Linked DNA regions of Homo sapiens: region 1 is linked to region 2. A link means that fine-mapping ties the variant in region 2 to the expression of a gene that starts in the linked region. Tissue or cell type: whole blood. Region 2 holds a variant in brackets; the other region holds the start of a gene. All regions are shown on one strand. Distances are between the middles of the regions.

The links. PIP is the estimated chance that this variant, and not a neighbour inherited with it, causes the effect.
Region 1: it holds the start of SLC16A10, and the variant in region 2 is fine-mapped to the expression of SLC16A10 in whole blood (INTERVAL, PIP above 0.99).

The regions. Positions count from the first base shown.
Region 1 is chr6:111,086,154-111,088,912 of GRCh38, reverse strand. SLC16A10 (solute carrier family 16 member 10) reads right to left here and starts at 1,410. Exons shown (of 6, transcript NM_018593.5): 1 at 818-1,410. The coding sequence starts at 1,160. RefSeq lists silencers at 840-1,019, 1,050-1,729 and an enhancer at 527-1,027.
Region 2 is chr6:111,155,040-111,157,798 of GRCh38, reverse strand. The region is part of intron 1 of SLC16A10 (solute carrier family 16 member 10); the gene reads right to left. Among named protein-coding and RNA genes, the nearest start is that of SNORD166, 43 kb to the right of the region's middle. The variant A/G (reference allele first, on the strand shown) is at 1,115.

The DNA of each region.
Region 1 (2,759 bases), 69 kb after region 2:
AGAATTTATGTTAAAGTGTCATGCAGAAGGTCTTAGATTTGTTTTTTGCCTAACCAGCCAAAAAGTCATAATAATGCTCTACAGGGAGAAAACGCTGAATCTGCACCTTTTGTATCTAATTTACTATATGGTTAAAAAAAAATGTCAAAAAACACAACAGGAAGAGGGAAGAAGCAACCCTTCACCTTCCTCATCCTAGTCCCTAATCCGGCTGCCTCCCGTGTTTTCTACATTTAACCCAGAGGGCAAAAAAAGGCGGGGGGACGGGAACGCACGGAACCGTGACTCTTGCAGGGCCCCCTTTGGAACTCCAGTGACCTTCGTACAAATCTCTTTCATTCCTCCAAACTCCACCCCCCGCCCCGCCAACATACGCACACCCCTCTGCGGCCCAGGGAGGCAGGTGAAGAACTACATAACTGGCATAGTCACGAAAGAGACCACAAAAATGACAGGGCGATGACTGGGGTTGAAGGTTCTGGGGTTCTGTTTGTTTTCAAACAATAAAAGGAAGGGCTCCTGTGGACTGTTAGCGTCTGCTCTGCTGAGGGGAAAGGAGGACGATCTCGGCAAGTAAGTTCTGCGACCTGCTTGCAAACACACAGCTCTGCAGCTGGATTCCATATAAAGACGGGCACCCCGAGGCCCCAGAAGCGGCAGGCTCTGTCTGCAACTCGAAAGACCCCCCTGCTCGCACCCTCTGGCACAGGGACCCACCGACATGCACACTCGGAGGCAGACACAGCCCACACGCGGGATGCGCTCGGGGGCCCCACGCGGGTCGCCCAGGCTGGCCTCGGCGGGCGCCGCGCCTCACCTGTCTTAAAGACCATCTTGTCATCGTCTTTGGAGCCGAAGGTTTCCAGCATGGACACGAAGAGCACCCCGCAAGCGTTCTGGATGCCGAACACCGACCCGTTGCACCACATGGCCGCCAGCATCACCAGCCAGCCCCAGCCGCCCTCGGGGGGTTCGGGGGGCTCATGGGGCTCCGCGGTCGCCGGCCCCGCCAGCTCCACCTCCACCTTCTCGACAGCCGCCTCGGGGCTGTCCGAGGGTCCCGGGCCGGGCGGCGGAGCGGCCCCCGTGGGCGCGGGGCCGAGCGGCTGCGCCTCGCTCGTGCCCCGCGCGGAGTCCGGCTCCTCCTGGGAGAGCACCATGGCCCGAGGCGGGCCCCTCAGGCGCCGGAGAAGCGCGAGGGACGCGAGTTACCAGCGGGCTCCCGGAGGAGCTGCGGGGCTCCTGGCGGGCTAACGAGGCCGAGGCGAGGGCGGCGGAGCCCCTGGCGGGCGGGCGGGCTGGCAGCGCGCAGGCGGCCAGCGCGCAGGCGGCCGCGAGGACAGCTGGCGCGCGCGAACACCTCGGGGATCGACACTGAAGCCTCTAGGTCACAGCCCCGCACCCCCGACTGAGCCCACTGCCAGCCGCCGGTTCTTAAAAGCACCCCCCGCCCCGCCGGCTGGGGGCGTGGCCGGGAGCGGGACGTGCCCCCACAGCCTCCAGATGATTGGGCCTCGGAGAGCGGAGGCGGGGCGCCCCGCGGCGCGCGGCCCCAGGTGCCCGCGGCAGACGCTGTCTGCGCGCGCGTCTGCGACGGGGCCTCCTCCTGCTCAGAGAGGGGCACAGATGTGTGGGTCACCCCGCCTCAAAGCATGAGCAGAAGGGGCGCGTCTCCTAGGTGCGGGCGCGGTGGGCCTTCAGGAGAGCCACACTGGATCGTTAGCCTCAACTCACCGACACAGCGTCACAGTCACACTAACATTGTCTCGATTGTGTTTGTTTTATGTTTTGGCATTCACCTCTCAGTACTAATTATAATATGTAAGATTCGTTATGCCACCTGGCTTCTTAAATAAGTCATCTGAAGGATCAGAGCCCTTATTTTATTACTTCAGTTCCATTCTCTTGCATTCGTATACAATTTCCTTATGAATATTTGGCACACCAAAGATGCTTATTTTCAGTCCTCACTGGACTGCAATTCCGAAGTCTTCAACCAACAAACATTTTTAACAGACAGCTAGAAAGCATTACTTTTCAACTACATCAGAGTCGTTTTCACTTTAAACAAAAACTAAAACCTGTATTCAACTCCTCTGTCTCCCTGAAGCATGGAGTGCCATCCTATGTAAAAGAAAAGAAGAGTAACCTGCTATGCAATATTGAGGATGCTTCTTAATTTCTGTTATTCGTATTCTTCACTTCAATCAAAGTCAAAATATGCTAGTTACTTGATGTGCCCACCACTGTGATAGAGTACACAGATGAGTGCGATTGATCTCGTTTCTGCCTCTTATCAGTTGATAAACTGGTAGGAAAAAAGAGTCCTGGGAGAGACTAGGAGGCTCAGATGATGTGTTATAATACATGTACAAAAGAGAGAGATGAGATAGTCCCTTAAATTCTCTCCAAACACTGTAGAAGAGCCTCTACAGCAAACAGCCTTTGGCCGAAGCCCTGATTCATACATACGACTTCAGTGGGTCAAGACAGGAAAAGAGCATTCCAGGTAGAGAAAATAGCATAAACTAAGGAAAGCAAGCCGTGCTTGGTTGTGGAATGGGGAACATAGCTCAAGTGTAATCTGCCTTAGAAATGAGGGTAAAATAGTAAACAAAGGAATAGGCACATAAGTGCACAAAAATGTATGTATGAAGATGATACCCCAGTATTGTTGGAAATAAGGAAAATTTGGAAGTATAATGTACATTGGTAGAAGACTGATTAGATACTTACTTTAAAACCTCTAAAAGTTCTGA
Region 2 (2,759 bases):
CATTTATGTATTTATTCAATCACTTGTTTATATCATTATGGACTCATAGATATTTATTTTATACTTTGATTTAAATTCAAATACTTCTCTGTGGCATAGATCTGCCTTAAAACCACAAGTGGTCTGAAGTTATACTCTGTGGTTTCACTGATACTATTTAGCTAACTTGTATCTTCAATTCTTGGAAACCTCATTCTCAGATGAAAACACCAAGTTTGGCCAGGCACGGTGGCTCATGCCTGTAATCCCAGCACTTCGGGAGGCCAAGGTAGGCGGATCACGAGGTCAGGAGTTAGAGACCAGTCTGGCCAACATAATGAAACCCATCTCTACTAAAAATACAAAAAATTAGCTGGGCGTAGTGGCAGGTGCCTGTAGTCCCAGCTACTCAGGAGGCTGAGGCAGGAGAATCGCTTGAACCCGGGAAGTGGAGGTAGCAGTGAGCCAAGATCATGCCATTGCACTCCAGTCCAGGTGACAGTACAAGACTCCATCTCAAAAACAACAACAACAACCAAGTTTTATCTCAATAGTACGATCAAAATGTGAAACTTTCCTACCTTTTAAAAAATAAACTTTTGTCTGGGCGCGGTGGCTCACGCCTGTAATCTCAGCACTTTGGGAGGCCGAGGCAGGTGGATCACCTGAGGTCAGGAGTTCAAGACCAGCTTGGCCAACATGGTGAAACCCCATCTCTACTAAAAATATAAAAATTAGCTGGGTGTGGTGGCGCGTGCCTGTAATCCCAGCTACTTAGGAGGCTGAGGCAGGAGAATCGCTTGAGACCAGGAGGTGGAGGTTGCAGTGAGCCGAGATTTCACCACTGCACTACAGCCTGGGCAACAGAACAAGACTCCGTCTCAAAATAAAATAAAATAAAATACACTTTCATTTTAGAATAGTTTCAGATTTACATAACAATTGTGAACAGTACAGGGAGTGCCCATATACCTCACATCCAGTTTCCTCTATTATTAACATCTTACGATAGTATGTTACATTTGTCACAATTAATGAACTACTATTGATACATTATTAGTAACAAACATCTATATTTTACTCAGATTTCCTCAGTTTTAACTAATATCCTTTTTCTATTCCAAGATCCCATACA[A/G]GATACCACATTATATTTAGTCGTCATATCTCCTTAGTCTCCTCTTGACTGTGACAGTTTGCCAGACTTTTCTTGTTTCAGATGACCTTGACAGCATTGAGGAGTACTTTTCAGGAATTAAGTAGCATGTCCCTCAATTAGGATTTGTCTGGTGTTCTTCCCATGATTAGTCTAGGGCTATGAGGTTTTTTGGAAGCACGACTACACAAAGTGCCATTTCATCCCATTATATCAAGGAAACACAGTGCAGTATCAACATGGCTTAGTGCTTTTGATGTAAACCTTGATCATCTGGGTGGGACAGAGTTTGCCAGATTCCTCCACTGTGAAGTTGTCTTCTTTTCCCTATTTATACTGCACTCCTGGAAGGAAGTCACTAAGCAGCCCACACTTACAGGAGTGGGGAATTAATTATGCTCTGCCTCTTTGACAGTGAAGTATTTACCTACATAAATTACTTGGAATTCTTCTGCATGGGGGATTTGTCTAGTCTCCCACATTTATTTATTTATTCAATCACTTGTTTATATCATTATGGACTCGTAGATATTTATTTTATACTCTGATTTAAATTCAAATACTTCTTCATTTTGTTGGCTATTGCAAACTCTTTCACATGGCTCCTGTGACCCTTTGACATACTCCCATTATTGGGGAGCAGTTTATTGTTTTTAGTTTTTGAGTACTCCCTTGCTTTCTGATATATAAGATGCTCCAGGCTAATCTTATATATTATCATCAGCCCTTTCTGCAAGGAGCCCTGGTTGTTTTTACTGGAGAATAGTATTACAAACCAAGATAAATGGTGCTAGGTGTTTTTGTTGCAACAGGGATGTCATGGCTTCTGCGCCCTCTTAGCCAAAGGAGGTAGAAAATACATGTACATATACCAACCTATCTATGCATAGCTATAAATACTTTCCACATGTAACCATCTGTATCTACATTAAGCTAAACATAAATTCATGCTGAGCATACTTACATACACCTCCAACTCTTCTAATTCATTATCACACAGGTTATTCTAACTCCTTCCTTGCTTGTCTATAATCTTTCTTTACAGCAATGAAAAATCTGGGAACTTCCTACTTTTCACCTCAGAAAGTTACAAGAGTAAAAGAAGAAATGAATTTATGTTTTGAGAGGAAATCACTTCTTCGAATAACCACATTATTATGTTTTTTGGGCCAGGCGTGGTGGCTTACGTCTGTAATCCCAACACTTTGAGAGGCAAAGACTGGAGAGCTGCTTGAGGCCAGGAGTTTGAGACCAGCCTGGACAATCTAGGGAGACCCTGTCTCTACAGAAAAAAAAAAACGAAACAACTTTTTAAAATTAGCCAGTCACGGTGGCATGCACCTGTTGTCCCAGCTACTCAGAAGGCTGAGCTGGGAGGTCAAGGCTGCAGTGAGCCATGATCATGCCACTGCCCTCCAACCTGGGTGACAGGGCAGGGCAAGATCCTGTTTCAAAAAAAAAAAAAAAAAGTCCTGTTGAAAGCAGTGATATTTAAAGAAGATAGGAAGATTGTGCGGTGTACCCTCTGTGTGTCACCTTAGATGAGGCCAGACCTAGAATCCATAACCCAGATGAGATCATCCTGGCCCCTGGTAGAACGACTCACCACTTTCAGAATTGTCTTTTT